Linked DNA regions of Homo sapiens: region 1 is reported to be linked to region 2. Evidence: microRNA targets listed by miRTarBase, many of them from high-throughput screens and not tested one by one. Region 2 holds a microRNA gene; the other region holds the end of a gene's coding sequence.

What was found. The annotated mature microRNA hsa-miR-8085 reads UGGGAGAGAGGACUGUGAGGC and lies in region 2 at 2,979-2,999, opposite strand. An mRNA with a match to its seed (bases 2 to 7 or 8) in the 3' UTR can be bound and repressed. Matches are read on the target gene's strand: a 7mer-m8 pairs with bases 2 to 8, a 7mer-A1 pairs with bases 2 to 7 and ends in A, and an 8mer does both.
Region 1: the mRNA of NECAB3 is a reported target of hsa-miR-8085. The part of its 3' UTR that is shown has no 7-base or 8-base seed match.

The regions. Positions count from the first base shown.
Region 1 is chr20:33,654,093-33,658,092 of GRCh38, forward strand. It overlaps NECAB3 (N-terminal EF-hand calcium binding protein 3), which reads right to left. Exons shown (of 12, transcript NM_031232.4): 11 at 3,850-3,941; 12 at 2,995-3,765. The coding sequence ends at 3,737. Among named protein-coding and RNA genes, the nearest start is that of C20orf144, 6.2 kb to the right of the region's middle. RefSeq lists an enhancer at 2,203-2,703.
Region 2 is chr19:44,757,521-44,761,665 of GRCh38, reverse strand. It overlaps MIR8085 (microRNA 8085), which reads right to left and starts at 3,009; the gene lies at 2,945-3,009. BCL3 (BCL3 transcription coactivator) reads right to left here. Exons shown (of 9, transcript NM_005178.5): 6 at 3,943-4,020; 7 at 3,253-3,420; 8 at 2,825-2,942; 9 at 1,622-2,238. The coding sequence ends at 2,051. RefSeq lists an enhancer at 2,423-3,072.

The sequences.
Region 1 (4,000 bases), not on the chromosome of region 2:
GTAGTATGTTTCGAGAATAATTTTTTGAAGACCACCTAATTCTCAGTCCCTTTCGGCTCATAAGAGACTGTGTTAAGGGGACTTGTTAGGAGAGCTGTAGGGCATTGGCCACCATCTAGACTGTTGCTATCTCCAGCCTGGCCTGGCACTGAGCCAATCCCTGGGACAGGTTTGAATATTTACAGGTGAGTCACAGGTGCAGGTGTGAGGAAGGGGAGAGGACAGGTGCAGGGAGTGGGTGGAAGGGTGGGGGCGGCAGCTGGCCAATGAGCCCGGAGCTCTCCTGACTTCAGGGCTCTGCCTGCCCTTGACCGAGTGCTGTCACCAGCCCAGAACATTTGATCATCCCCAGCACCTGCCACAAAGCAGGTGCCCAGCGCAGGATTGGGAAAGGCGCCCCAGCACAATGGCACTCACCTGCTCCTTACAGTGGAAGCGTTTCTGTGGCGGACGGGTGGCTTGGGACAAAAGCCACAGACAGGGTGACTGGGGTTGTAAATGGCCCAGCCTTGGCTGCCAGGACATGAAATTATGACCTTGATGCTGAAGGCAGTGGGTGCCATTGAAGGGTCTTGGCCAGAGGTGCGTTTTTCAAAATGGCAACATTTCGAAAGCCGCCTCTGGCTGTGTCTTTACAGGGAATGGACGGGGTGGGAGCCAGGTAAAGAAGTTGCTGCAGTCTTCCACGCCAGAGAGGACGGTGGCCCTGACTTGGGGGCTGGGGCGAGGCACAATGGTGGGGATGGCAGGCTACAGATGAGGTGGGCTCGTGAGATCGACAGACAAGGCAGAGGCTTGAGGGCTTCCTCCAGGTCCCCACAGCCCCAGCCCAGCTCAGACGTCTGTTCTGTGGCTGCAGCTCCAGCCATGTCTGCGCTCAGCTCCACCCCCACCCACTCCCTGTCTGGGACCCTCCTGTCTCCCTGTCACCTGCAAGACAACATTCCACTCCCATGCACCCGGCCTCCTCAGCTCGCCCCAGCCCTCACACTCCAAGGATCCCTTCTGCCCTCGCACCTGCCCGGAGACCTCTGCTCTACTTCCACAGCTCAAACCAAACACTGTCCTAAGAGGCCCCCTGACCCTGCTGGACATCCCTGCCTGCGTGCCCTCCTCTGCAGCTCCAGCTTTCAGGAGGGAGGACACAGCCTTTCTTATTAAAAATTGTAATAAAGAGGTGTCCACCTTCAGAACTGCACTGCAGGGCGAGGCAGGCAGGGTGCCCAGGGCACAAAAACTAAGGAGACGCCCACCACAGATAAGTCAGCCTGAGGGCTTGGGCATGTCTAAAGATGGCAGTGGGCTGGGCACAGTGGCTCATGCCTGTAATCCCGGCACTTTGGGAGGCCAAGGTGTGCAGATCACTTGGGGACAGCAGTTCAAGACCAGCCTGGCCAACATGGTGAAACCCCATCTCTACTAAAAATACAAAAAAAATTAGCCAGGTGTAGTTGTGTGTGCCTGTAATTCCAGCTACTGGGGAGGCTGAGGCAGGAGAATCGCTTGAATTCAGGAGGCAGAGGGTCAGTGAGCCAAGATCGCACCACTGCACTCCAGGCTGGGCGACAGAGCAACTCCGTCTCAAAAAATAACAATAATAAATAAAGATGGCAGAGGGAAGTTTTTTTAGTTTTGAGGATTTGTTGCTACAGTTTTTGTGGAGGACAAAAGAAGCCTTTACAACACAGGACGTAAAGCAGGGCGATGTCCTCCTCAGCTGTCTTCTCTAACAAGACACACTGCCCAGCCTGGGCAACATGGCGAAACCCCCATCTCTACAAAAATTAGCTGGGCGTGGTAGTGTGCGCCTGTAGTCCTTGGCTCACTGCAACCTCCGCCTCCTGGGCTCAAGCGATTCTCCTGCCTCAGCCTCCCAAGTAGCTGGAATTACAGGCACACACAACTACACCCGAACAAGCCTCAAGCCTGCTCAGAGCCCCATGTGGTTCAGATGGTGGCAGCACTTTCTAGGAGCTCCCAGAGATCTGGGAAGCGGGGTGGCGGGAGGACGGCCTGGCACTGGACTGGCCAGGGTGCCAGCAGGGACCTCTGTGCAGGTGGCCCAGGGAGCCAGGCTGGTGGAAGAAACTGTCTCCCACAGGGGCTGCCAGGGAGAAACCGCAGGGAAGACCCTGCCTGGAGTCCCAGATGGGAATGCCCACCCTGAACTGGTGCCATCTGAGTTGCCTTGTAGCCAGGCCTCAGCCCAGTAAGGACCTGGCAACACCAGGGCGTTCAGGAACATGGAAAGGGCACTCAACCCACCGGCCACCCCCTCACCCCGAATTAAAGCCTCCCATGGCCTCCTTGGGATGTAGCACCTCAGAGGCCCAGCCTCACCCAGCCCTCTCCCCCTGGCACCCCCAGCTCAGCCCCGCTACTGGGTCACCCTTGGTTCAACCAGGCAAGCCCTCCTTCTCCTCAGAGCCCATGTGCCGTCTCCTCTGTCTGGAAAACTGACGCCAACACTCCCAGGCCAGGTCAAATGCCATCCTGTGCTTCTGTGGTGCCAGGGGCCTCCTCTTCAGAGCAGCTGCTTAGATGTCCCTCTTGGTCACCTCCCCTCCATGCCCCCAGTAATGGAGGGGGGCAGGAGGACACCCCCAGGGGCTAGTAGGACTGACTCAGCCATTGTCCAACTGGAACCACTCTATGTGGGGTGGCAGTGACAAGTCCAGCTTGGTGAGGACAGGTCTTCCCACAGGAGCGATCTGGGCCCAGAGGAGGCTCTGTGTGGGTGAAGCCAGAACCCCTATAAAACCTGCAGAGACACGTCACCCCCTCCCTCAGGCAGGACCCAGCACCAGGGTGTGTCAGGGCCAGGGACCCTGAAGTGGGAAAACTTGCGTCAGCTCTTGTGAGCATCCACTCTGCGAGCGTGAGGGCACAAGGTGGGAACCCGGGGGCTTCCCAAGAGAGGTGCCCTGCCTGGAGCTTCTGGCCTGGGAGGCGCACAGGCCCCACAGCCCAGACCTGCGAGACAGGAGGCAACACTGGAAGGGACCACTGCCTTTATTGCCTCTGTGCTGGGGTCCCAGCCTGGGGTTCAGAGGCCTCTGGGGGCAATAGGTGACCCTGGACCCAAATTATTGCTACTTGGCCAGGTCACCTTGGGGCTTCCCATACTGCCCTGAGAATGGGTGGGATGAGGGCATGCAAACGATATGCAAATGACATGCAAACCAACCCAGAGGCCTCTGGCACATCCATGGGTGCTGGAAGAGTCAGAGCCTAGTGGCCTGGGAGGGCGACGGGGCACCCAGCTCAGGCCCAGCCTCGGAGGCAAGGTTTGAGGGTTGGGGGGTCCCTGAGCATCAGCCCTGCTTCTGCCGCTGGCTGAGGAGGAGCAGAAGCCTGGTCCCAAGACAGCAGGAAGAAAGCAGGACCCTCGCTAGGCGGCCAGATGGCCTGAGGCCCACCCAGACAGGGACGGGACCTGCCCTGGGTCGCTCAGCCAGGCAGGGACAGCAGGGACCAGAATCCAGGTCTCCTGAGCCAGGCAGAAGCCAAAGTAGCTTGGAGGCTGAAGTGACAAACAATAAAATACAGGGATAAATAAATCAATAATAAATAGAAAGCAAGCAGCCCAGTCCCTGATCCCTGGGCTGAGAGCCCTTCCACCAGGCCCAAGTCCAGGAGGAGACAAGTCCTGGTCTTTGCGCTGGGCTGGCCAGTCCAGAAGGCTCCAGAGGGAGGCAGGCAGGGTCCCGGGGCCCTCGGCGTGTGCAGGTCTGGCTCAGTTGTTATTCATTATCCACCAGGAGGCTGGGGGTCAGAGGCAGGGGGTCAGGAGCCCTCAGGAGCCCACTGCCCCTCCAGGGCCACAGTGAGTGGGGGTCCACCGCATACCTGGGAAGAACACAGTGGTGAGGGTGTCCGGGGCCCGCAGGTGGTCGATGAGGATGCGCTGGAAGGCCTTGCTGCCAGGCGACTGCTGGTGCCTGCAGAGACCCAGGCTACAGTGACCTCGCTCTCCCCACTCCCGCCCCATCCTGCTGCC
Region 2 (4,145 bases):
GCCTGCCTCGGCCTCCCAAAGTGCTGGGATTACAGGCGTGAGCCACCGCGCCCGGCCGATTTTGGACTTCTTATGCCCAGAACTGTAAGAGAATAAATTAGTATTGTTTGGCTGGCACGGTGGCTCACACCTTTTGTAATCCCAGCACTTTGGGAGGCTGAGGTGGGTGGATCACTTGAGGTCAGGAGTTCCAGATCAGTCTGGCCAACATGTCAAAACCCTGTGACTAGTAAAAATACAAAAAATTAACCGGGTGTGGTGGTGCACGCCTGTAGTCCCAGCTACTTGGGAGGCTGAGGTAGGAGAATGGCTTGAACCAGGGAAGTGGAGGTTGTAGTGAGCTGAGATTGTGCCACTGCACTCCAGCCTGGGTGACAGAGTGAAACTCTGTTTTAAAAAAAAAAAAAAAAAAGTTAGCATCATTTCAAGCCACTGAATTTGTGATTTGTTATAGTGGCAACAGGAAACCATTACAAACCCCGACTGACACACAGAGGCATACCCCAGAGTCAAAGCACAGATGTGTGGCTGGGCGCGGTGACTCACGCTTGTAATCCCAGCACTTTGGGAGGCCAAAGCAGGCAGATCGCCTGAGGTCAGGAGTTTGAGACCAGCCTGGCCAATGTGGCAAAACCCCCTCTCTACTAAAAATACAAAAATTAGCCAGGCATGGTGGTGGGTGCCTGTAATCCCAGCTACTCTGGAGGCTGGGGCAGGAGAATCTCTTGAACCCAGGAGGCGGAGGTTGCAGTGAGCCGAGATCACGCCATTGCACTCCAGCCTGGGTGACAGAGTGAGACTCCATCCCCCCCCAAAAAAACAACAACAAAACCACAGATGTGGTCCATTAGAGGGGCCCCATGGAACCACTAAGTAAAACTGTCTCACGCCATGTGAGGCAGTCACAGGGCAACAATCACAGCATCACCCCAGATCTCAATGTTAGGAACACTCCCAAGCACCACGCACTCGGACAGCCAGAGACGATTGGGGCTGAAGTCAGCTGTGGGTTATCACCAGGACCCCCACACTACAGAAACACACATGCCCAGGGTCACTACGGAATCCAACAGGGTGCCCTGGAAAGATATCACACACCGGCCAGGTGCAGTGGCTCATGCCTGTAATCCCAGCACTTTGGGAGGCCGACACAGGAGGATCATGAGGTCAGGAGTTCAAGACCAGCCTGACCAACATGGTGAAACCCCGTCTCTACTAAAATTACAAAAATTAGCCAGGTGTGGTGGTGCACACCTGTAATCCCAGCTACTCGGGAGGCTGAGGCAGGAGAATCGCTTGAACCGGGGAGGCGGAGGTTGCAGTGAGCCGAGATCGTGCCACTGCACTCCAGCTTGGGCGACAGAGCAAGACTCTGTCTTGAAAAAAAAAAAAAAAAGATATCACACACCACGTCCTCCTTAGAAACAATGGTACAGTGACAATGATGGCAACATTCACAACCAAACACACCAGAAGTCCCAGAGTGACACACAGGAGATTGTCTGTCTGAGACTCACAACATCACTCTGGGAGTCAACTGGATTCAGTGCACGGGTGTGCACACACACGAAGGCACTTCCGCCAGGTCCATCTCATGAAAGAGGCCCATGCACCCAAGGGATATGGTACAAAAATAGTTTATTACAAAAGAAATCCAACCAAAATGCTTAATAATTTACATCGTGATCCGTGCCCGTTACGGCCCACCTCTCCCCTCCTCAGTTATCTGGTAGAGAGTGGAGGGGAGTGGCTGTTCCCTGGGTCCACCAGCTCTGGGAGGGGACATGGAAATGGAAGATGTGGGTGGCATTCCGGACAGGGACTGGTGCCTGAGAATGCTGGGGTCAGAGTCCTGGGAGGGAGCGAGATGGGGGAACATCTGTGCTCAGAAGAGGGGGTGTATGGGTAGGTGCATGTGCTTCTGTGCAAATCCTGGTCCCGAAGATGGGGGGGGGGGGCAGAGTGAGATCTTCACAGTTTCCAGAAGGGTTGACCCCACAGGGCAGGGGGGCCCCTCCTCATGAGTCCAAGATCTGCCCCCCCATCCCCCTCAGCTGCCTCCTGGAGCTGGGGAGGGGGGCACCGGCCGGCCAGGGCCTCGGAGGACCCCAGCAAAGGGCAGGAAGGCGGGTGGAGATGGGGAAGGAAGGAAGAAATTGGGAGGAGCCATGGGGAATCCAGGGGGGTCCCTGGGGGGAGACTGGGAGGGTGAGGAGGATGGTGATGCGGAGAGAAGACCTGAGGAAGGAAGAGAGACAGAGGGGTGGGTGGTGAGAGGCTAGACCCAGAGAGCAGGGGCTGGGGCCTGAGATCTGGGTCTGAGGGAGGAGGGGCTGGGGGTCTGGACTCGGGTCTGAGGGAGGAGGGGCTGGGGATTTAAACTCCCGGGTCTGAGGAAAGAGGCATCTGGGGACCTAGACTCCTGGGTCTGAAGGAAGAGGGGCCGGGGGTCAGAAGGAGGAGGGGCTGGGGGTGTGAGGGAGGAGGGGCTGAGGTCTGAGGGAGGAGGGTCTGGAAATCTGGACTCCTGGGTCTGAGGGAGGAGGGGCTGAGGTTTGAGATAAGAGGGGCTGGGGGTATGAGGGAGGAGGGGCTGAGGTCTGAGGGAGGAGGGGCTGGGGGGTCTGAAGGAGGAGGGGCTGGGGTCTGAGGGAGGAGGGGCCAGGGGTCTGAGGGAGGAGGGGCTATGGGTTGGGATTCCTGGGTCAGAGGGAGGAGGCTAGGGGCCTGGACTCCTGGATCTGAGGGAGGAGGGGCTGTGGGTTGGGATTCCTGGGTCTGAGGGAGGAGGCGCCAGGGCTGGAGGTTGGGAACGGTTTCTCACCATTGGAGCTGAGGCGGCTGCTGCTCTCGGGGGAGGTGTTGGCGCTCCGGTCAGGGGAGGGGTCTGGCTGGGAGGTGGAAGCAGGCCGGGTGGCCTTCCCCCTCAGGATGTCGATGACCTGTAGGAAGATGGGCGTGACCATAGAGCCACCCATGCCTCACAGTCCTCTCTCCCATCCCTCCTAGCTCACTGGATCCAGGTGGTGGCCTCTCCACTTCTCAGTATGAAAAGATGGGCAAGGCACTTTTTTTCTTGGTGCCAGTCTCTCCTCATTTCTGGAACTCACACCCGCGCTTTCAGAGGCTCACCCACTCCCCTCCACGCAACGGCACAGACACCCTCACTCCTCTGCGCTCTGGCACACTCGCCTGCAACCAGCCCGCGGACACACGTGTGCAAGGGGCATGTCCACAGCTGCCCCGGCTCACCCTGCGGCTGCGCGCCACCATGAGCGGCGTGTCGTTGTGGCAGTTCTTGAGGCTGCTGTCAGCGCCGCTGCGGACCAGCGTGCGCACCAGCGGGAGGAGCCCGCGGCCGGACGCTGAGTGCAGGGCGGAGCTGCCGGAGTACATTTGCGCGTTCACGTTGGCGCCGTGCTGCGGGACGGGAGGGCCGGGTCAGGAGGGCGCGCGGGCCACCCGGGGTAAGGGAACAGAGGCTGGAGGCCCGGGTGGGTGGCCGGCACGTGGGGCGGCACCGGATCGGGGTGGGGTCACAGGAAGGTAGGAGCGAGAGCCAAGGGCAGGCCAAGCGGGACTGCGTTGGCGGCGATGAATTAACCGGAGCTGGACACCGAGGCCCGCGCCCCAAGGAGTCGGGGGAGCTGGAGGGGGGAAGGACAATGCGTGGACAGGGCCTAGCTGGAAGGCGGGGTCAGCCAGGCCATCGCAGGGCGGGGCCTAGGCCGTTGAGGTGGCAGAGGAGGAATGGGACAAGTTCGTAGCCAGGGGCGTGGAGCCCGAGGGTCGAGAAAACTAGGCCTTAAAGGATCAGAGCTGGACGCGGAGCAGGAGCCGGAGCCAGAAGTGGAAGGCGGGGTCAGAGCTAGGGGCTGAGGCCAGAGCCGGGTTGGGGTCAGAGGATAGGGTGGGCGCGAGGCTCAGGGGGGCTGTACGCACCTGCAGCAGCAGCTGCACCATGCTAAGGCTGTTGTTTTCCACGGCGTGGATGAGCGGGGAGCGGCCGCTCTTAATGTCCTGCGGCGGGGAGGGAAGGTCTTAGTTTCTCCAAGCTCTGCTCCAGCAGCCGGCGACCCGCATCCCGTCCACATCCCATTCGCGGGGTCCAGCCTCTCTCTTGGGTCTGATACTCCAAGCCCCAC